3 linked regions of the Homo sapiens genome follow. The protein of the gene in region 3 interacts with the protein of the main gene of each other region in a biochemical or structural test. Each region holds a gene or a part of one and is shown on either strand. Other genes may lie near its edges. The genes, in order: LRP2, SORT1 and LPL.

What was found.
Region 1: the proteins of LPL (region 3) and LRP2 form a complex in vitro, tested with the Homo sapiens proteins (one study listed by BioGRID).
Region 2: the proteins of LPL (region 3) and SORT1 interact in a biophysical measurement, tested with the Homo sapiens proteins (one study listed by IntAct).

The regions. Positions count from the first base shown.
Region 1 is NC_000002.12:169,352,533-169,356,185, reverse strand, and holds part of LRP2 (low-density lipoprotein receptor-related protein 2 precursor), read left to right. Parts: intron 1-3,653. UniProt on the Homo sapiens protein: Multiligand endocytic receptor. Acts together with CUBN to mediate endocytosis of high-density lipoproteins. Mediates receptor-mediated uptake of polybasic drugs such as aprotinin, aminoglycosides and polymyxin B.
Region 2 is NC_000001.11:109,314,394-109,318,046, forward strand, and holds part of SORT1 (sortilin isoform 1 preproprotein), read right to left. Parts: intron 3,577-3,653; coding exon 3,460-3,576; intron 2,566-3,459; coding exon 2,457-2,565; intron 386-2,456; coding exon 279-385; intron 1-278.
Region 3 is NC_000008.11:19,949,196-19,952,848, reverse strand, and holds part of LPL (lipoprotein lipase precursor), read right to left. Parts: intron 1,081-3,653; coding exon 901-1,080; intron 1-900. UniProt on the Homo sapiens protein: Key enzyme in triglyceride metabolism.

The sequences.
Region 1 (3,653 bases), on a different chromosome or scaffold from region 3:
TGTGGTGGCTCATGCCTATAAATCTCAGCACTTTGGGAGTCTGAGGTGAGCGGATTGCTTGAGCCTAGGAGTTTGAGACCAGCCTGGGCAACATAGTGAGACTCCATCTCTACAAAAAATACAAAAAATTAGCCAGGAATGGTGGTGTGCCCTTGTGGTCCCAGCTACTTGGGAGGCTGAGGTGAGATGATCGCTTGAGCCCAGGAGGTCGAGGCTACAGTGAGCTGTGATCATGCCACTGCACTCCAGCCTCAGCGACAGAGTGAGACCCTGTCTCAAAGAAAATAAATACATAGTTGAAAAGATACAGATAATTAGGTTGATCCATTTGAGATTGATTTTTTTTCCTATGCAGAAATAGTCAAATATTGGCAATTTCATTTGGTTCAACCTAATATAAAATGGAGGCTCAAACTATGTCAGGCCAATCTTGTCTTTTTTCCGTCTCCTGGCTCTGAGATGACTCCATTCTTAAACATGTTCTCCTTTGATGTAAAGCGGCTGTCAGTGGCTCTGGAGCCACCTCCTATCAGATCACATCCACTGGGAAAGAAAAAGAGTTTTTATCTTAGCTATTCCCAGCAAAAGTTTCAGTTGCATCTCAGGGTCTCTACTTAGGTCATAAACTCATTGGAGAACCAACCACTGAATCCCGGGTCATGATGTGTTCCCATGGCTTAGGCTTGGGCTGTATACTCAGTCTTTGAGATCATGTATGAAGGGGTGGAGTCCAGAGAGAAATGGGGGTAATTATTGGGAGAATGGTGAACAGAGGCTGGGATGCAAAAATAACAGGTGTTCAGTATACCTTATCAGATAAAATTGACTGACGATGTTATTTTCATTTTGTATGTGAAGACACACTTGAAAAAGCTACAGAAATTTCTCAAGAGCTGGCAGCCCTGGGGTAACTTACAGAATTGAAAGGAATAAAGTATTGGAAACATTAAGAAAAAAGACATGGTGATCTGTGCCCATGTGACCATGTTGCAACTTTAAGTTTAGAAGGAGAACAGGAGAAAGAAGGACTTTTAGAAGGTTTATTTGGATCCTAAAGTTTTCTTATTTGGAGCAGAGCTTTGTGATAGACAGGAAAGTTCTGGAAAATGAGCTGAGCGATCAGACTACAGGATCCCTTAAGTCTGGTGCAGTATTTCATTTTTCTGTGAATCTTAGGCTCCTACTCCTTTTCCAATTTACTTCACTCCAATGTTTATGTTCCTAAGAGTTTGTCTGTTTTCCAAGCACTAGTCCTTTGCTATAAGGATGGGGTAGAGAGAAAGAAGCTTAAAGAGTTTGCAGACAGGTTAAGATGCTTCTGTGGAGACAGAACACATCTTGGTGCACATCTGAGTGTCCTTAGCACTTCATCTATGGACTTCTTTCATAAATGGTAGAACACGTATCCATCACACCTTATTGGATTAATTCAGAAATGCCAGATATATGTACTCTTTGCTGATGGTTACTTTGTTGGTCTCTAATTTAAGTCTTATCTCTAATCACATTAGCTGAGAAAATGGAGACATTATCATTCTAAAAATAAGATGGTTAACTTTTATATTAGGACACTTCTGATTTAGGATAGCACTGAAATTCAGTGCAAAGAAATGTAAGTCTTTCCTAGATAATGACAGATTAGACAATTTGAAGTTTCACTTTTGGTCATTAGCCCTCAGGTCATGCCTGACCTCAAGGTTACTGGAAACAGTGAGAAATGAATGAAAGGAGGAAATGTAATTACCATTCTGTGCATTGAATAGTTGAGCCACTGTTACCATGGATACAATGGCGCATTTATTGTCCAGATCTTGAGATCCAAGTTTGTAAGCAATATCCAAGGTCTCCTTTAAATTTATGTACTATCAGCGAATAACACATGAAGATTCCTGGTAACTTTGAAAATAAGTCTTTCCTCACTGATCTACTGATTCACATTAAGTAAGAGCATGTGTACTTTTGAAGGTGTTGAGGAAACCTGAAAAAGACGAAAAGGAAAGTAGCTACACTTCTGTTATGCTGGACATTCTTGGATTCCTCTATAAAAATATTCTGTCTTATACTGTCAGTGATTTGCTTGTCACTTTGGGCCCAGTTCTTTGGTTTTTATGTCATTAACAAGGAGAAAATTTCCTGAGTAAAGGTTGAAAAAATCAAAATCGTTTATTTTTATTTTTTGAGACAAGGTCTTACTTTATCACCCAGGCCAGAGAGGGTCTCACTTTATCACTCAGGCTGGAGTGCATGGCTCCCTGCAGCCTCAACTTCCCAGGCTGAAGAGATCCTCTCCGCTTAACCCCACAAGAAGCTGGGACTACAGACACATACCAGCACTCACAGTTAATTTTTATATTTTTTGTAGAGATGAGGTTTCTCCATGTTGTTCAGGCTGGCCTCAAACCCCTGAGCTCAAGTGATCCTCCCGCCTCAGCTTCCCAAAGTGCTGGGATTATAGGCGCTAGCCACCATGCCCGGCTGAAATCATTTATTTTGTCAGGAAATTCTTAAAGTTGAATTTAAGAATGAAAGTATTTTATCAGAAATATGGCAATCCTACCCACATTTTAATCTCACTAGAAGGGGGGTGATACATGCTAGCATGTACTTCCACACTGGTTTAATTTTGATGTGGGGAAGGGTGTGGAGAATACTTTTTGTTGCAAGAAACAGAAAACCCAACTCAAAATGGCCTACACAATAAAGGGTATTTCTTGGCTTATGTGAGTAAAAAATACTGAGGCAGAGTGGGGTTCAGGCGAGGTGCAGTCAGGGCTCCAGTTCTCTTTCTTTGTGTTTTCCTTGACCCTACTCCCCCCTAAGTTTCACCTTTGTGTGCGGTCTGGCTTCCCATATGATTCTGATATGGCTGCCAGGGCAAATGGGGCTACGTGTTTCCTTGATCCTATCCAGGGGGAATCCAACTTTGAGAAGGTTTTAGTTATGTTCTCAAAAGTATTATTTCATCACAATAACTTACAGATTGTTAGAATTTCTAAGGACCCTAGACAAAGTCAGCTAGCTCCCCAAACTTGACATATCATCAAAATCACCTGAGGAACTTAAAAAAGTATAGAGATTCTTAAATCAAAACTCACCCTTACTAAAGCAGGGGTATGAAAATCTGTGTTTTTTAAAAATTTTATTTTATTTTACTTTCAGTTCTGGGATACATATGCAGAATGTGCAGGTTTGTTACATAGGTATACATGTGCCATGGTGGTTTGCTGTACCTATCAACCTTTCATCTAGGTTTTAAGGCTCACATGCATTAGGTATTTGTCCTAATGCTCTCCCTTCCCTTGGCCCCCACCCCCTGACAGGCCCCGGTGTGTGATGTTCCCCTCTCTGTGTGTGATGTTCCCCCCCCTGTGACCATGTGTTCTCATTGTTCATCTCCCACTTATGAGTGAGAACATGCGGTGTTTGGTTTTCTGTTCCTATGTTAGTTTGCTGAGAATGATGGCTTCCAGCGTCATTCATGTCCCTGCAAATGACATGAACTCATTCCTTTTTATGGCTGCATATTATTCCATGGTGCATATGTGCCACAACCAACCCAAATGCCCATCAGTGATAGACTAGATAAAGAAAATGTGGAAAATCTGTATTTTTAAAAGTTTCAAGGTGATTCTGAGGGCTGGACCAATTTTTGG
Region 2 (3,653 bases), on a different chromosome or scaffold from region 3:
GAAACCTCCTTAACACTCGGTGGTACACAGCAGGGGTGCACTTCTTACAGGACTGTGGACTTTCTCAGTTTTATACACTCAGGAACGCATCACAGACACAGAAAGCACAGTCCATGGTTGACATATGAAAAATGTACGACATGAGAAGATTTGGGCCTGATTTTTCAGGAACAGTACTGCAAGTACCTAGTTTTTGCCAAGAGTAGACTCAGCCATATGCCCTAGATCAGCCTTCTGGCTTGAACTCAGTACCTTGGATTGACTTCTGTGTTCCTTACCTTCCCCCACAGACATATTTCTTCACAATGAGCACTCCTGCTACGACTGTGACCAGCATCAATCCCACGATGGCCAGGATAATTGGAACAGAATTTGACTTGGAATTCTTGAGAAATTAAAACACAAACACAAAAGTTTTAGGCATGCATATCCTAGGACTGAGGTCAAGGCAGCCACTCATTCCCCTCATCTCTTTGTGAATGATCTGCAGTCCTGATGCGCTTAATGATGGCTCTTTTCCAACCCCCCAAGATGAACCATCTCAGTGTTACCAGGAGAATATTATAGCTGGCAGAGAGTCATCTTAGCTCCAACTGCCTTGAACCTTCAAATTCTGTGGTTTAAATGTCAAAGTTACACTGGAAGCCTGGGCAACTGCCTAGATCAAGTATGATTGCTTCACACTACCACTGTTCACAAGTCTTGGGGCTTAAGGGTGGAGTAGGAAAGGGAGACTACTGTAACAGTAGGCTGAATGACTCTAGAACAGGGCCATTATCTGGGAAGAAGCTGTGTCAGAAGAACCAGGCAGGCCATTATATGACACCAAGATTTATTTGTTTACTTAATTTTTTATATATTATTATAAATAAGCCTTATCATATCACTGTTTGCATGTGACCTACCTGCTTCTGGGTGGGAAATAGGGAGTGTGTGTTTTCAATGTATCCCAGAGGAGGCAGAGCTGGATTCTAGGACAAGCTGTGTCCCTGTGGGTGGGAGTCCTGTGCAATCACACACACGAACACTCTGAGGAGAGTCACCAGGAGCCCAGGACAAGGGTGCACAGAAGGAGGAACTCGCCCCCTTACCAATACACACACTCACACACTCCTCTCCCATCATCTCCTTAATCCCACCCCTTGTCAGTCCCTCATCCCTTAGAACAGCAGAGAGGAGGGACTGCAGGTGATCCAGCTTGACCTCTCCTATTACGAATTGGGAAACGGGCCTGCTGTTGAGCATCTGAAGTCATGCTGCTGGTCTAGTGTTTCATTATCAAGAGGTTTCCTCTTTACACATCTCCAGTTCCACAGGTAGTTCAGTGCTACAGATTTGGATGCAGCCTCATAACCTTTTTTTTTTTTTTTTTTTTTTAAATTGAGACAGGATCTCACTCTGTCACCCAGGCTGGAGTGCAGTGATATGATCATGGCTCACTGCAGCCTTGACCTCCCAGGCTCAGGTGATTCTCTCCCTTCAGCCTCCTGAGTAGCTGGGACTACAGGCACACACCACCACATCCGGCTAATTTTTGTATTTTTTTTGTAAAGATGGAGTTTCTCCATGTTGCCCAGGCTGCTCTCCAATTCATAGCCTCAACTGATCTCCCCACCTCAGCCTCCCAAAGTGCTGGGACTATACAGGAGTAAGCCACCATGCCCGACAGGTAACTTGCTTCATTTAAATCAAAACCAGCCCATTACCATAGCTCAATTTTTCACTTTGAACATACTTAACATGACTTGGTCAGAGATCCACCCTACCTATTGCCCAGTGCTCTTCTCTTCCACACATGCACAATTCCAGGTCATGGCCCTTCACAGACAACCTTTTTTTTTTGGTACGGAGTCTTGCTCTGTTGCCCAGGTTGGAGTGTAGCAGCACGATCTCGGCTCACTGCAACCTCCACCTCCCAGGTTCACATGATTCTCCTACCTCAGCCTCCCGAGTAACTGGGACTACAGGCGTAAACCACCACACCCAGCTAATTTTTGTAATTTTAATTTTTGTATTTTTAGCAGAGACAGGGTTTCACCATGTTGGACAGCCTGGTCTTGAACTCCTGACCTCAGTGATCTGCCTGCCTTGGACTTCCAAAGTGCTGGGATTACAGGTGTGAGCCACTGTACCCAGCCCACAGACAACCTTTTTGTTTTCCTAAATGACTCTCAGCCTCAGAAATTTCCACAACTGTATGATTTTAAGAATTTTACAACTTTACAGAATATCATCCCCCAACCCTCAATAAGAAAAGAGCTTTCAGTAGGGTGAGCTTATCACTGGGTTACATGACCCATCCTTCATGCTAACAGCTTCCTGTATAAGGGAAGCCTGAGAGAAGTAGTTTGACCACTTTTTATCAGTAACAAAACTCTTGATGCTTTAACTTTGATTTTTCTTAGCAGAACACAAAATCCCATTTGTACCTGAAAACTAGACCTATTTTAACATACCTGTTTTTCCGGACTCAAAAAGTTGCTTGTGCATTTCTTTTTCAAGTCTTTTACTTCTCGAACTGGATTTACCCCACCCTGGCATTTGTCCCCTGGAATTTTCCGGTACCTACCAGGCAAAGAAGATTTGGTAACAGAAGATAAGGATGTATTCCTGGGTACCTGCCTATTTCTTGGAAACAAGATTTGAAAAGCTGCCGAAAAGCTTCCCATCCTTACGTCATGTTTCAGGCCTGGGGGGAATGTCCACAGGGATGTTTTGGGGGATATTTTGTGTAGTTTCAGGCCTTAAGCAAACTAAGCATCTCTGTCCCCTGCTGTCAGAAACATGCCTGTTCTTTCTACCTAAGAGACTGTGCCAAAGAAATCTGACCCCAAAAAAGCTCATTAACAAGTGGTACAAAATGGGAGAGGGGAAGTTATCAGGGGAGCGAGGTAATGAGGCCCGTCTAGAGCAGCACTGTCCAATATGGTGGCTACTTAAAATTGATTAAAACGAAAATTTCAGTTCCTCGGTTACACTAGTGTCCACAGCTATGTGTGGCTAGTGACTATCATATTGGGCACAGCAAATTACAGAACACTTCCATCACCAAAGAAAGTCCTATCAGACAGAGCTCTCCCTGGCTGTGCCTAAACTGTGCCAGACGAGCGATGGACGTTCATGGCGGATGGGACGCTTCTGTCATTCTGCCTGTGGGTCCCTCGCCTCTCCTCCCTTCCTGGGGGTGGTTGGGCGGGAGGCAGGGGTGCAGGATCTGGCCGAGCTTGTTCTCCTGCTCTGCCTCGTGGTGTTGGTGGGGTTGAGTCCTCTGACACCAAGCACTCATGGCTCACCTCCTGTAGTTGACCCTTGAAGGAGGCCTTCATATCCTGCCCCTCCCCAACCCCGCCAAAAATAGTGCTCTAAAGTAGGGCTTGGATCTCAGTGTGGAGAGAAGCAGCTTTCACTCTGAACAAGAACACCTCATCCATCGTGACAAGGGAGAAAAGGCCACCTCACCCATTTGTTGTTAGGTGTTCTTCTCTTCCGTACAGACAAAACTCCAGGTCGTGGCCCTTCAGTTCTGGCTGTTCCACACACTTGGAGTCATTTTCTGGACGGTAGTAGCCAAAATCACTGCAAGAGTCAGCAAATAAAGTACCTTTCAAAGCAGCTGGAAGACCGTTAAGTGACTAGCAATGAAGGGTTATGTG
Region 3 (3,653 bases):
TTCCTTACTCTAAATATCTGTATCACTTTATCATTGAAGGTTAGCCAAGCAATGACAGACTCAGGAAACATTCAGTGGAAGGGACCAGAGGTACATGGTCCAGCCCCTCATTTAACAGGTGAGAAGCCTGAGCCCCAGGGAGGTGATCCCGTTTGCCCATGTTCATTTGCCTGGTCAGCAAAAAAGACAAGAAAAGAACTTTTGTCTTTTATGATCAGTCTAATAAACACAGCTTATTTTTTACTTCCAATTACCTGGTTAAAATAATTTGCCTTGGTCAGAGTATCAGCTTCTTTCCAACCCCAAGATACTTTTCAGAGGTACTTCTCAAGGGATCGTGTGAAAAAGTGGGTCTCTTGCAGCTAAGTCAGAACTCCAGACCTCAGTTCCCTTCTATCCTATGCACCTTCCCTTCCAACATCTTCCTAGCTCAATTCCATCACTCTCCCAATGCTCAACAAAAACGTTCATCCTATTTCACACTAAAGAATAAGTACTATTAATATTTTCATGAAAGAGATTGGTATGTCAAGGTGAGGATAAGATGTCCACAGGCCAGCCAACTGGTAGGGAAGGGTCTGGCTGAACATGCCATCTTTCCTCTGTCCGAAAATCACAAGCTTTTTTCTGTTGGGCCCACTTAGTTATTGGTCTCAGCAGATCTATTCACTGTGAAAATATCAAACGATAGAGCAGGGCAGGACTATTTATTGGCCTTATAGTCTATTCTTATCAAAATGTTGCTTTTGGATATAAAATAATATCCACGCTGATTCTGAAGATTTGAATGCCCCCAGAAAATATTTAAATCTAAGAGAAAAGGAAGAAAGAACAGCCGGTTTTCTGGCTCCAGTCAAAAACACTGTTTTGGACACATAAGTCTCCTTCTCCCAGTCTTACCTCCATCCAGTTGATAAACCGGGCCACATCCTGTCCCACCAGTTTGGTGTAGCCCGCGGACACTGGGTAATGCTCCTGAGCCCGTGACAGCCAGTCCACCACAATGACATTGGAGTCTGGTTCTCTCTTGTACAGGGCGGCCACAAGTTTTGGCACCCAACTCTCATACATTCCTGTTACCTGAAGATGATGACACAAGCTTTCTTAAAATACCCACCTACCACTTGTCATAGATACATCAGCCCAATACACCTGCATGAAATGGAAAAAACAAACTTGATTGGAAACCCATTGGCACAGATAGAAAAATCAAATAACAGAACAGTGTTCAGAGACAGGTCTGTCCCTTCCAAGGCAGATCTAAGTAAGCCAGGAAGGCATTGAGTTGAGTTGAGGAACGGCAGATTGGGGTTCACCATGCTTCCCATTTAAAAAGTATATTTTAGACATTCAATAAAATTTTGATCATTTATACTATTAAAAGGAAAGATTGGTCTGAATGCAAAGTGGGTCTTTGAGGAAACTAGCAGGAGCACCTGGCTAGGAGCAGAACCCTGTTGAATTGGTCCAGTCCCACTCACCTTCGCCTCCCTTCAAGGTTGGGGTGTTGGGCACCCTTTGTAGTTGGCTTTCAAGATCAGGAGAGGTTGATGTCATTTCTTCAGAATGTAATGTTAATGTCTCCCTGTTTCAGCCAGGATCCCCTACTTCACAATGGGAACCCTGTACTTAAAGCCAGTGACATCCAAGCAAGTGGCAAAGCTCCAAGATAGCTGTGTCTAAGCAACCTGCTGGGATGTATCACATGCATGCTACATGCTAAGCATTCCTTTGGGTGTCTCATGACACAGCTGGAGAGCCTCCTCATTTCCCTTCGTCTGTGCCTGTGAGTCCCCAGGCAGCTTATTTCAGATAAGGCAAGAAAATCGGGTTTACTCTAGGCCTCTATCAGAAGTTTTTCTGTACTACCAGTGTTTCTCTTTTCTTTGTTCTTCCTTCCTTTCTTCCTCCCTCCCTTCCTTCCTTCCTTCATTCCTTCCTTCCTTCCTTCATTCCTTCCTTCCTTCCTCCCTCCCTCCTTCCCTTCCTCCTTCCCTTCCTTCCTTTCATTCCTTCCTTTCTTTCCCTCCTTTCTTTCCTTTCTTTTGGCAGAGTCTTACTGTCTCGCCCAGGCTGGAGTGCAGTGGCATGATCTCAGCTCAGTGCAACCTCCGCCTCCTTGGTTCAAGCGATTCTCCTGCCTCAGCCTCCTGAGTAGCTGGGACTACAAGCACATACCACCACACCTGGCTAATTTTTTTGTATTTTTTTAGTAGAGATTGGGTTTCCCCATGTTGGCCAGGTTGGTCTCAAACTCCTGACCTCCAGTGATCTGCCTGCCTTGGCCTCCCAGAGTGCTGGGATCACAGGCATGAGCCACCGCTCCCAGCCCAGTGTTTCCAAGTTAAGCAATCTAAAAAGGCTGGACATCCAACTTACTCCTACAGTGGCTGACATTTTTATTAACCGAACAATAGCTAATTGAATCCTTTCTTTCTGATCAACATAAAATACTGATGTAAGTAATCCCAAACAAAGCAAATGAAAAATCTAAGTACTCACCTTTCTCAACTCAAAAAGGGTCTTATTCTAAGTTCTTTCAATCTGAGTTTTTCTTCTGAGGTTCAATAATTACTATGTTTTAAATCTTTGGTTTTCAGACACGCAGCTGAACTGAAGCCCTCCCTGCTGCCTATACCAGGTGGGCCACCTGACCCTGCCAGTGAGTTCACTGAGATAATCAAGATCAGTGTGGCTGGCTTAGTTCTTGCACAGACCCAACTCAGTCCCACAGCCAGACAGCAGTCTCTGTGCTCAAGCACTCAAAATGTCAGGACACATGATGTGAAAGATACAGGTGGGCTTAGTGAGGCAGTAGGACCAATGATAGGAAGTGGCACCGTCTGTTGATATTGGGTTGGTCATGTCATCTTAGTATGAAAAAGAACCATTTTTTTCCCACAACTTCCCAAAGTATAAAATTCTCTCAGGGATAAGATTGAGATGACTGAGATACTCAATTTATTTCTGTTGTATAAATGCGTTTATTAAGCTCAGATTTTTTGAAAAATTTTAAAATCCAAGTTCTGTATATAACCAAAGGGCCTCTAAAGATTCCTTTTTCTGGGCCAGATGCAGTGGCTCTCGCCTGTCATCCCAACACTTTGGGAGGCCAAGGTGGGTAGATCACTTGAGGTCAGGAGTTCGAGACCAGCCTGGCCAACAGGGTGAAACCCTGCCTGTGCTGAAAATATAAAAATTGGCCGGGTGTGGTGGTGGGCGCCTGTAGTCCCAGCTACTCGGGAGGCTGAGGCAGGAGAATCTCTTATGCCCAGGTGGCGGAGGTTGCAGTGAGCCGAGATCGCGCCACTGCACTCCAGCCTGGGCAATAGAGTGAGCCTCCATCTCAAAAAAGAAAAAGATTCCTTTTTCCTACTTACACCTATTAAAATATTAAAGGATTTATGTTTAGGAATTTGAGATTTTATCACAAAATATTGAATTTACTATGTTAACATAGTAAATGGCTATATTTTGTTAAACATCTGTGTGAATTCTGTTAGTAGTAGTCTCATCTCTATAAAAATTGTAGCGATTGTCCTCTTCAGTCAATAACAAAGCCACTTAAATTATGTAGGAAAAGAAATGTGGACTAGATGAATGTTATTTTTAGTTAGTTCTCACTAGAAATTAGTATTATAATATTCACAAGC